Homo sapiens: one gene and its partners. The protein of the gene in region 2 interacts with the protein of the main gene of each other region in a biochemical or structural test. Each region holds a gene or a part of one and is shown on either strand. Other genes may lie near its edges. The genes, in order: KMT5C, H4C7 and KMT5B.

Region 1 (3,748 bases), on a different chromosome or scaffold from region 2:
AAAAGAAGGGAGCATCACTTGAATGAGCCCCTAGAGAGACCCTGTCTCTACAAAAATTAAAGGATTAGCCGAGCATGGTGGCATGCGTCTGTGGTCCCAGCTACTCAGGAGGCTGAGGCTGTAGGATCGCTTGAACCCAGGAGGTCGAGGCTGCAGTGAGCCATCCTTGCACCACTGCACTCCAGCCTGGGCAACAGAGGAAGACCCTGTCTCAAAACACAATACAGGCCAGGCATGGTGGCTCATGCCTGTAATCCCAGCACTTTGGGAGGCTGAGGTGGGTGGATCACCTGAGGTCAGGAGTTCGAGACCAGCCTGACCAACATGGTGAAACCCCGTATCTACTAAAAAAAAAAAAAAAAAAAAAAATTAGCCGGGCATGGTAGTGCATGCCTGTAATCCCAACTATTTGGGAGGCTGAAGCAGGAAAATCGCTTGAACCTGGGCGGCGGAGGTTGCAGTGAGCCGACATCGCACCATTCCACTCCAGCCTGGGCAACAAGAGGGAACTCTGTCTAAAAAAAAATTAGCCAGGGGTGGTAGTGCATGCCTGTAATCCCAGCTACTTGGGAGGCTGAGGCAGGAGAATCGTTTGAACCTGGGAAGCAGAGGCTGCAGTGAGCCGAGATCACTCCACTGCACTCTAGCCTGGGCGAGAGAGCGATACTCTGTCTCTGTCTCTCTCTCTCTCTCTCTCTCTCTCTCTCTCTCTCTCTCTCTCTCTCTCTCACACACACACACACACACACACACACACACACCAAAACACCAAAAACAGCACACCAAAACAGCACCTACTCTGTGGCATGCATTGTTTTAAGTGCCCACGATCTATAGCTGTACAGTGGAGCGCATGTCTGACAGTGATCCTATATGTGTAGACACACAAGCGCCTACATTGTGTTACCGGACAGTAACATGCTGCACAGCTGTGTGGCCCAGGAGCCGCCGGCCACCTTACAGCCCAGGTGCCAGCAGCCCTGCCACGTAGGTGTGAGTGATGTTGCTCTAGGATGCTGGCAGGATGACGACATCGCCTGAGCACGCACTGCCCAGATGGTATCAGTGTCGTTAAGGGAAGAATGGCTGTGGCGAAACAAACAAACAAGCAAACAAAGACCGCCTGTTCTGAGTGTGGAGCTTATTATTCTCGGCGTAATTATGATGAATTGTTAGTTACGTTTGCCTCTAGGATTGAGGTAGGGGGGGTGATCCCAATTAGGGGGTGCCCCAGGGGAGCGCCCCAGGAGTCAGGGCTTGTCTCAAAAGTCCCCACTCCTCCCTCAGCCTCCCCTCCCTCCATCCGACCCCGTTCATATCGCGGGAAGGTCCCACAGAGTGCGTGTGGATACTCCCAAAACGCAACGGTGTAAACGGGGAGGGAGGGAGAGAGACTGAGGAGCCCTTTGTAGCCAGGCAGAGCTGTCAATAAAGTTTCGTCGCCTTGGTAACCGCAGGCCTCGCGGGGCGGGAGGGGAGAGGGATGGCGGTGCGCGCGCATTCACCGCCTCCCTCCCGCCGGGTCTGGCTTTCTCCCTCCTGTGGCCGAAGCTTTCCTCGGAGAAATAGAAGAGGGAGGCCGCGACTCTATGGTGATGGACGGAGGCCTTACCCAATGGAAAGAGGAGCTGTCCCAAGGCCAGGCAATCATATACGACTACTGGAGCTGGCAGAGCCCGCCCTCTTTCCACTTGGACCTGAATAACCCGACCCAAACCGAGTTTCGCCCGGAGAGACTGCGCTTTCGGCCAATGAGTGCGTCGATTTCGAGCCCCAGTGTGAGCGAAGGCGGGACAAGTCTCCATGGCAGCGACTAAAGGACAGCGATGTGAACCACTGACAACAGTTCGCGGCGTTTGACGGCGGCGGGGGCGTGGCGGGGTTTTATCTGTGTATTGACGAGAGCCGGGCGCGGAGGGAAAGAGTGGGGCTTGGCCAATGGGAGCGCCGTGAGCTTCGTAGCAACGGAGGAGTGGCGGTGGCTGTGGCCAATAGAAAGCCTCAGTGGCCTTGGCGGGGCTGGCCCGGAGAGCAGATGGGAGGTGCGGCGACAGTGTTTGACGAGAGCCGAAGGAGGCTGTGGGAGGTGTTGGCGGCGGCGGCGCGGGCGCCTGAGGAGGAGGAGGAGAAGCGGGTGAGGGGCGGCGCGGGGCCCGATCTCTGAGCCCCTTCACGGCCCCAGCCCCGCGCCGCCTTGGCTCCCCAGTCGCCCCCTGCCCCGACTGCCCCCCACCCCGCCCGGCCCCTCCTCGTGTCCAGGCGCCCACGTCTCCCGGCCCCTCGCCGGGCCTCGGGCTCCGCGGCACTGCAGCCTCCTTCCTGTGCTTCCTCACCCGGGCCCTGACCCCCTTCTTACGTCCACGGCCCTCCCTGCATCCTCAGGGCCTCTCCCTGACCTCTTGTCACTCTCCAGGCCTCTCCCTGCACCCCCCAGGGCCTTTCCCTGACCTCACCCTCCAGGCCTCTCCCTGCACCCCCAGGTCTCTCCCTGCACCCTCAGGGCCTCTCCCTGACCCTTCTCTCACCCCCGGGACCTCCCTGCACTCCCAGGGCCAATCCCCGACCTCCTCTCACCCTCCAGGCCTCCTTCTGGACCCTCTAGGTCTTTCTGTGCCCTAGAACCTCTCCCTGACCCCTCTGTCCCTCTCCTGGCACTCCCTGGACCCTGAGGTCGGCCTCTGACCCTCCAGGTCCCTTGCCCTGGGCTCTCACCGCCTACCCAGGCGCCTCCCTGGGTCCCCAGGCCCTTCCCTAGGGTCTCCCTTTCCTGGATCCCCCAGGACCCCACCAAGCCCGTTTGGATCCCTGGGCCCCTGTCCGCCCTCTCAGGCCCTTCACTCACTGGACACCCAGGATCTTCTCCGCCATCCCTGGACCGCCCCCCGACCCAGGTCTCCCGTCTGGCTCCTCCCTGAGTCCCTAGGCCATTCCCCGCTCTCTGTCCTCCCTGGCACCCCCATCCCTTCCTCACACCCCTCTGAGCGCCCCCAGGCCCGGCTGCAGCCTTCTCCCTCCCACAGCCCCCTGCCGTGCCCACCGCTGTGCGTTTCTCTCCTTGCCCCCAGCCCCCTCTCCAGCTTCCCCGCTGTCCCTGGCGTCCTCCTGCAGCGCCCCCTCTTTCTCTCCCGCAGCCTCGCAGTCTGTCCCCGACCCCTCCACAGCCGTCTCTGCAGCTCCCGCTCCTTGCCCTGCCCCATCTCCTCCTCTCCTGGGCGCGGATGAGCCTCGAGCGCCGTGGTGCGGGGACGAGGCTGGCCCTCCGTCCGGGTTAGGGGTTTGGGTGGTTTTCTTCATCTCTCCGTTCTCTCCTGGCTCCGCTTTAAAAAAATGTTTTTGTAAATATTGACCTGTGCTGCCTCCCCATAGTCTTCCTTTGCTCCCCTCCCCACCCCCGCTTTTGTCCTCTGAGCCCCCCTCCCCTGGAATCCTTGGAGAGGGAGCAGGTGCTGGGATCCCTCCCCTGCCCTCCCTCCCGTCACCCGCCTCCAGGCTGCCTGGGGCTTCACCCGGAGCCTCCTGACCACTCCCGAAGGCTGCCGGGGAGGCAGGGGGCGGAGACCGAGGCTGGGTCGAGGTGGGGGTGGAGGGCGGGACCTCGGGCTGGCGGGAAGCTTTGACTTTTCCTCCTTGAGGGCTAGAGGTGAAGCGGCTCCCCACGGTGCTAAGCCTTTAGGGTGATCCCGGCTGCCAATCAGTCAGCCTTCTCTGGGCCCAAAGAGATGTGTGTGTGTAGGGGGTCTCTGTACAT
Region 2 (3,259 bases):
CCAGGATGGAGTGCAGTGGCGCAATGCGGGATCCCGGCTCACTGGGACCTCCGCCTCCCGGGTTCAAGCGATTCTCCTGCCTCAGCCTCCCGAGTAGCTGGGATCACAGGCGTGTGCCACCACGCCCGGCTAATTTTGTAGCTTTAGTAGAGACGGGGGTTTCACCATGTTGGCTATGATTGGTCTGGAACTCCTGACCTCAGGTGATGTGACTCCTTGGCCTCCCAAAGTGCTAGGATTACAGGCGTAATCCACCGTGCCCAGCGCAATTTCTTGTTATTCTAGTAATTTAATCAGCCTGGCCAACATGGAGAAACCCTGTCTACTATAAATACAAAAAATTAGCCGGACGTGGTAGCAGGCAACTGTAATCCCAGCGACTAGGGAGGCTGAGGCAGAAGAATCACTTGAACCTGGGAGGTGGAGGTTGCAGTGAGCCGGGATCGTGCCACTGCACTCCAGCCTGGGCTACAGAGTGAGACCCCGCCTCAAAAAAAAAAAAAAAAAAAAAAAAAAAAAATCTAATTATTTCAAAATAATGTAGAAATAGGCTGTGATGGGATTGCTGCTTTTATTGCTTGGAATTCCATGGTTTATCAAGTTTGTTTGTTTGTTTTCCCCACAAATAGTTGTTTGCACTCTTGGCTTTTTGTTGTGGTGACCTGCTCATTAGGCCATAATTCATTTATGCAGTTACATGATTTTTTAGATATTGCTGACCCTGCTTCAAAAACCCATGATCTTTAGGACTGTTTGTTTGGTGCATCGTAACTGCACAATAAAAAATCCATTGTTATTTTGAACATTCTATTTTAGAGACATCATTTATTTCCACTTAAATGCTCTCGTTTAACTAGCTCAGCAAGTATTTTGTAATGTAAAAATTTAGTGGTGCTTATGTCTTTATTTTGGCTTGTGAGCAAATTCCCCTTTTCTCCTATTAACATTTATGACAGCTTTCCCTGAGTTTCCTGTTGTATCAACCCCAGAAGACAGTCACCCCCTGTACCTTCTGTCCTCCACATGAGAACAGGGCATGGAGCCTCTGGCAATTTACATTATCTTTTTTCTGGGCAATTCTTCATTGCTTAATTGTATAGTGCTTAATATAAGTGAAAGCACACTGAATGTATTGGTGTTGCAAAGGCAATGTTTTAAAATCCTTCGGTGTGCTTTACCTCTGCATTATTATTTTGTCTGTAAAAAAAGGCTGTGGCAATAAGAATTCGTTTACCAACTGGCCGGTGAGGTGGCTCACGCCTGTAATCCCAGCACTTTGGGAGGCCAAGGCGGGCGGATCACCTGAGGGCAGGAGTTGGAGACCAGCCTGGCCAACGTGAAATCTGGTCTCTACTAAAATACAAAAATGAGCCGGGAGTGGTGGCACATACCTGTAATTCCAGCTACTTGGGAGGCCGAGGTAGGAGAATAGCTTGAACCCAGAAGGTGGAGGTTGCAGTGGGCAGAGATTGCGCCATTGCACTCCAGCCTGGGCAACAAGAGCGAAACTCCGTATTTTAAAAAAAAATCATTTACTAACTATATGCCAGTGTTTTGCTTAAAGTAACTCAATTATTAACAAGTATTTACCCTTTTTACAGATAGGGCCATTGAAACTCAGATTAACATGTCTAATATCGGTGAGAGAGCAGTCACTCACAGATTCGAAACCAAAAACCAGGCTACTTCTCTTTAGCTGGGCGGCTTGGCAATATGATTAGGAATTCTTTTATGTCTTGGAATTTGGGCTTGTTTCAACTTCAGCATGGTAAATGCTCTAATATACAGGGAAGGAGTAAATCTTTTTTTTTTCTTTTTTGAGACGGGCTTCGCCCTTGCCCAGGCTAGAGTGCAGTGACGTGATCTCGGCTCACTGCAGGCTCCACCCCACGGGGTTCATGCCATTCTTCTGCCTCAGCCTCCTGCATAGCTGGGACTACAGGCGCCCGCCACCTCGCCCTGCTAATTTTTTGTATTTTTATTAGAGACAGGGTTTCACCGTGTTAGCCAGGATGGTCTCGATCTCCTGAGCTCGTGATCCGCCCGCCTCGGCCTCCAAAAGTGCTGGGATTACAGGCGTGAGCCACCGCGCCCGGCCAGGAGTAAATCTTTAAACACATACAGACATCAAAAATCGAGATACTTTCCTCTAGGTACATGTTTGACACTTTCGTTTAGAGATCCTTATTCTCTAAATGCCAGCAAATCTCCCTACTACAAGAGAATTTCTTATGTCTTGTTATTACTAGAAGTAGATGAGCGGGGACTGAATACGTTTTCCCGCCTTTCCTGGTCTTTCAGTTTTCAAAAAGGTCTACTCTACCGTTATATAAAAGGCTGCGGAAAGCGAGTAATCGTTTTGTTTAGAGATAGTTCTGACTTGTTTATCATGTCTGTTCGGGGCAAGGCCGGAAAAGGCCTTGGGAAAGGCGGTGCCAAGTGCCATCGCAAGGTACTGAGCGATAATATTCAGGGCATTACCAAGTGCACTATCCGGCGCTTGGCCCGGCATGGCGGTGTCAAGCGCATCTTGGGCCTCATTTATGAGGAGACCCGCCGGGTGTTCAAGGTGTTCCTGGAAAATGTGATCTGGTACGCCGTGACCAACACGGAGCACGCCAAGCGCAAGACGGTCACCGCCATGGCCGTGGTCTACGTGCTCAAACGCCAGGGAAGAACCCTGTAAGGCTTTGGCGGTTAAGTGAGGCCAGGCCTTTCCTTGCAATATCGTTAATGGCCCTTTTCAGGGCCGCGTACGTTTTCTTCCGAAGGGCTCACGTTTGACATTGTGGAAACTTAACTAACGCACTCAGCAATATTGTGTGTTTTATTGCTGTAGGTGCCCAAAAGCTGTTAGGTGTATAATGCTGTAAAGTATAAATTTACGCCAAGGCTGACATACAACATGGAATACAGGTGGTAAGTTAATCGTGTGTTCAGAGATTAGAAATCTGGTGGGCTGGCTGAGGACATCAACGGCTACATTGTCACTTAAAAGCTCTCAAAATGTGGTTATGGTAGTGTGTTTTTCTCCTTACTGTTAGGATTACCCTCCGTAATTAAAATTGTAGTTTTAGTGCCAAGATAACCCGACTTTTATATTCTGCTTAATAAGCAATTTCAATAACCAGAGAATACACAATAATTAGCACAAACTTGCCAGGTGCCGTTCTGACAAATGTGTCTGCAGTGGAGGGACTGGCCCCCTTGCTAGTTCAATGATCTAATTTAGCAGCACTAAAAGAAGTTTACCTGTTTC
Region 3 (3,748 bases), on a different chromosome or scaffold from region 2:
TTAGTTCATCTGCATGTTTCATGTAGTTTTACCTCCTTTTTTTGAAATGTCATTATGAGATAGTTAATCAGTTGGGTTTTAGAATTGAGAGACTAGGGTATCAGTGTCCCCCCCCCCAAAGCTTGATTGGGGGCCTGTATGACTCCTACAATGCCAGTTGCATTTCTATAAGCTGTCTTAGTTTGTCTGTTGTAATAGCACACTAAAGAAAACAGTACCGGCCGGGTACGGTGGCTCACGCCTGTAATCCCAGCACTTTGGGAGGCCGAGGCGGGTGGATCACGAGGTCAGGAATTGAGATCATCTTGGCTAACACGGTGAAACCCCGTCTCTACTAAAAATACAAAAATTAGCCTGTAGTCCCAGCTACTCCGGAGGTTGAGGCAGGAGAATGGTGTGAACCCGGGAGTTGGAGGTTGCAGTGAGCAGAGATGGCTCCACTGCACTCCAGCCTGGGCGACAGAGCAAGACTCCGTCTCTTAAAAAAAAAAAAAAAGGGGGAAAGAAAACAGTACCTAGATCCGGGGATCATTTGCTGGTGATAAACCTCTAGGTGGTACACGTGGCTCAAGCACTGGAGTAAACCCCAGACTGCAGTTTAAAGATGAAGGTTTTAGACCCACCCTTACCACTTAGTAGCACTTTGAGTTTAGGAAAGCAATTTGTTTCTGAGCTTTAGCCTCCTTGTTGTAGTGCTAATACCTGTTTCACCTGATAGGGTTGCTGAGCTAGCGAATCCCGAGTCCTGCATGTTAGGGGAACCAGTAGAAACCGAATGTGTGTGTTGTGACACCTGTGTTTCTACCTTGTGCCACCTTTATAGGAATGCCTGGTCAGCACATCTCTAATGGCACTCGGCTTGCTTCTCAGGCCTTACGCAAAAGGCCCATTCAGTGAAGGGTCATTCTGCTTCCTAGTCTGTACTTTTCTACCCTGTTAACTTTTTTTCCCCTTATGCATCTGTTTGGTTTTCTTCCCTGACTCAACGACTGATTTTCCTGAAAGTAGAAGCTCTCATACGCCCTCTAGTGTTCCCTGGACATGACCAGTATTCCAGCACCACGAACAGTGCCTGGCAGCTCTGGGAGGTTCTTCATAAGTTTGTTGAACTGAGTGGATTCTAGGTCGGCCCGATGAATTGTTTTGCCTGTCTGATTTGTATAACACGGTTGAAATGTATGATACATTTTAATGGTCTCTGAGGAGTATTTTTATTTTCGAGGCAATGTTTATGTTGCATCATATGGAGAAATAGATATTTTTAGTAAGAAAACCAATCTGATTTTAGGAAGCTGCAGCTTTCCTCACTGAGAAGTAAAAGGGGGCTTGATCCTTCAGCCAGTGAGCCAGTGGCACCATAGGAAACCCCCCTTCACTTTCCCCCTTGGAAAGGAAACAAAACCAGACGTCATTCAGGGTCCTGGAGGGTTTAAAGCAAATATTTGTTTGGTGCATATAAATAAGTACCAGGAGGGCTTTTGACCCAAAAAAGGTATTTTTTGTTTGTTTGTTTTTGAGACAGGGTCTTGTAGCCTCCCAGGCTGGAGAGCAGTGGCATAATCCCAGTTCACTGCAGCCTTAGTCTCCTGGGCCCAAGCAATCATCTCGCCTTGGCCTCCCAAAGTGCTGGGATTATAGGATGAGCTGCCATGTCTGGTCTTGTTTTTATATTTACAATTTTGATTTATATTTCCCTGATCATCCCATCTCAAGTCCATTCTTACATTAGTCTCTCTCCTAACATCCTGTTTGTTTTTCTTACAGCTCGCATCAGATTGATAACCACATACTTACTTACATCTCTTCCCATAGTATGCTCTGACCTCTATGCAGTCAGGAACGATGTCTATTTTGCTCTAGAGTTTTACTCTTCAAATATGGGGCACAGTGGTTTTTTTGTTTGTTTGTTTGGAGACAGAGTCTCACTCTGTTGCCCAGGCTGGAGTGCAGTGGCGCGATCTTGGCTCATTGCAACCTCCACCTCCCAGGTCCCGGTTCATGCAATTCTCCTGCCTCAGCCTCCCGAGTAGCTGGGATTACAGCCACATGCCACCACGCCTAGCTAACTTTTGTATTTTTAGTAGAGACGGGGTTTCACCATGTTGGCCAGGCTGGTCTTGAACTCCTGACCTCGTGACCCTCCCGCCTCGGCCTCCTAAAGTGCTGGGATTACAGGCGTGAGCCACCGTGCCTGGCTTGGGCGAAGTGTGTTTAAAAATTTGTTTGGGGCCAGGCGTGATGGCTCACGCCTGTAACCTCAGCACTTTGGGAGGCCGAGACAGGTGAATCACGTGGTCAGGAGTTCAAGACCATCCTGGCCAACATGGTGAAACGCTGTCTCTACTGAAAATACAAAAATTAGCTGGGCGTGGTGGTGGGCACCTGTAATTCCTGCTACTCGGGAGGCTGAGACAGAGAATTCCTTGAACCTGGGAGGCAGAGGTTGCAGTGAGCAGAGATCGTGCCACTGCACTCCAGCCTGGGCAATAGAGCGAGACAGCGTCTAAAAAAATAAAAAATTTGTTTGGGTCATTATTCTGTGTTGTTTTTTGGTTTGTTTTTTTTTTTTTTTTGAGATGGAGTCTCACTCTGTTGCCCAAGCTGGAGTGCAGTGGCACGATCTTGGTTCACCACAACCTCTGCCTCCTGGGTTCAAGCGATTCTCCTGCCTCAGCCTCCCGAGTAGCTGGGACTACGGGCAGGTGCCACCATGCCTGGCTAATTTTTGTATTTTTAGTAGAAATGGATTTTCACTATGTTCGCCAGGCTGGTCTCGAATTCTTGACCTCGTGATCCGCCCACCTCGGCCTCCCAAAGTGCTGGGATTACAGGCGTGAGCCACCGTGCCTGGCCTGTGTTGCTTTTTTGTGTGATATTAACAGTACACAGTCTCTCAGCCTGGACTTCACTTCAGTTTTTTTTCTAATTCTCTGAGTTTTGTTCTCATTTGTAAAATGGGGATGATAGTATTGAGTGTGTGTTAAAGGGCAGTGATGTTTGTATCTTCTTTTATAGGGTGTGAAAATAATCTGTTTGACCAGGTACACCACAAACTAAACTGTGTTGTAAGAAGCTCTGTAGTCCAGTCTGTGGTCCCTCTGAATGTTTAGGATGGGAGATGTAGCTTGGCATGATTTTTTTTTTTTTTTTGAAACGGAGTCTCGCTCTGTCGCCGAGGCTGGAGTGCAGTGGCGCAATCTTGGCTCACTGCAAGCTCCGCCTCCCAGGTTCACACCATTCTCCTGCCTCAGCCGCCACCATGCCCGGCTAATTTTTTGTATTTTTAGTGGAGACGGGGTTTCACCGTGTTAGCCAGGATGGTCTCGATCTCCTGACCTCGTGATCCGCCCGCCTCAGCCTCCCAAAGTGCTGGGATTACAGACGTGAGCCACTGTGCCCTGCTGCTTGGCATGATTTTTAATCATGCGTGTTGCAGCCAGAAGTTACATTCCTTCTCTTTGGGAACTGTAGGGAAAGCAGAACTGGTGCTCAGCCTTGTGTCATAATTATTCTTTTGCACATTTGTTCTTTTTTAAATGGGTGAGGTGATGAGATTTTTTTTTTCATGTGTGAGTTATGGTGGGGAATAGAAGGGAAATTTCTACTTGATTAAAGTTTTGTGAAGAATGTTTCTGGCCTGCTTTACTTTTGCCTTAGTTACTTGGAAGGGGAGACCTTAATTTGTTAGCAGTTTGTGCTCATTTAAAATATCTTGTGCCAAACCTAGGGAGGCCTTCTTTTCATTGTA

The links.
Region 1: of the proteins of H4C7 (region 2) and KMT5C, one has a biochemical effect on the other in vitro, tested with the Homo sapiens proteins (one study listed by BioGRID).
Region 3: of the proteins of H4C7 (region 2) and KMT5B, one has a biochemical effect on the other in vitro, tested with the Homo sapiens proteins (one study listed by BioGRID).

What each region holds. Positions count from the first base shown.
Region 1 is NC_000019.10:55,337,824-55,341,571, forward strand, and holds the start of KMT5C (histone-lysine N-methyltransferase KMT5C), read left to right. Parts: upstream 1-2,052; 5' UTR 2,053-2,134; exon of another isoform or gene 2,135-2,891; intron 2,892-3,748. UniProt on the Homo sapiens protein: Histone methyltransferase that specifically methylates monomethylated 'Lys-20' (H4K20me1) and dimethylated 'Lys-20' (H4K20me2) of histone H4 to produce respectively dimethylated 'Lys-20' (H4K20me2) and trimethylated 'Lys-20' (H4K20me3) and thus regulates transcription and maintenance of genome integrity.
Region 2 is NC_000006.12:26,246,108-26,249,366, reverse strand, and holds H4C7 (histone H4-like protein type G), read left to right. Parts: upstream 1-2,370; 5' UTR 2,371-2,389; coding exon 2,390-2,686; 3' UTR 2,687-2,756; downstream 2,757-3,259. UniProt on the Homo sapiens protein: Core component of nucleosome. Nucleosomes wrap and compact DNA into chromatin, limiting DNA accessibility to the cellular machineries which require DNA as a template.
Region 3 is NC_000011.10:68,206,616-68,210,363, reverse strand, and holds part of KMT5B (histone-lysine N-methyltransferase KMT5B), read left to right. Parts: intron 1-3,748. UniProt on the Homo sapiens protein: Histone methyltransferase that specifically methylates monomethylated 'Lys-20' (H4K20me1) and dimethylated 'Lys-20' (H4K20me2) of histone H4 to produce respectively dimethylated 'Lys-20' (H4K20me2) and trimethylated 'Lys-20' (H4K20me3) and thus regulates transcription and maintenance of genome integrity.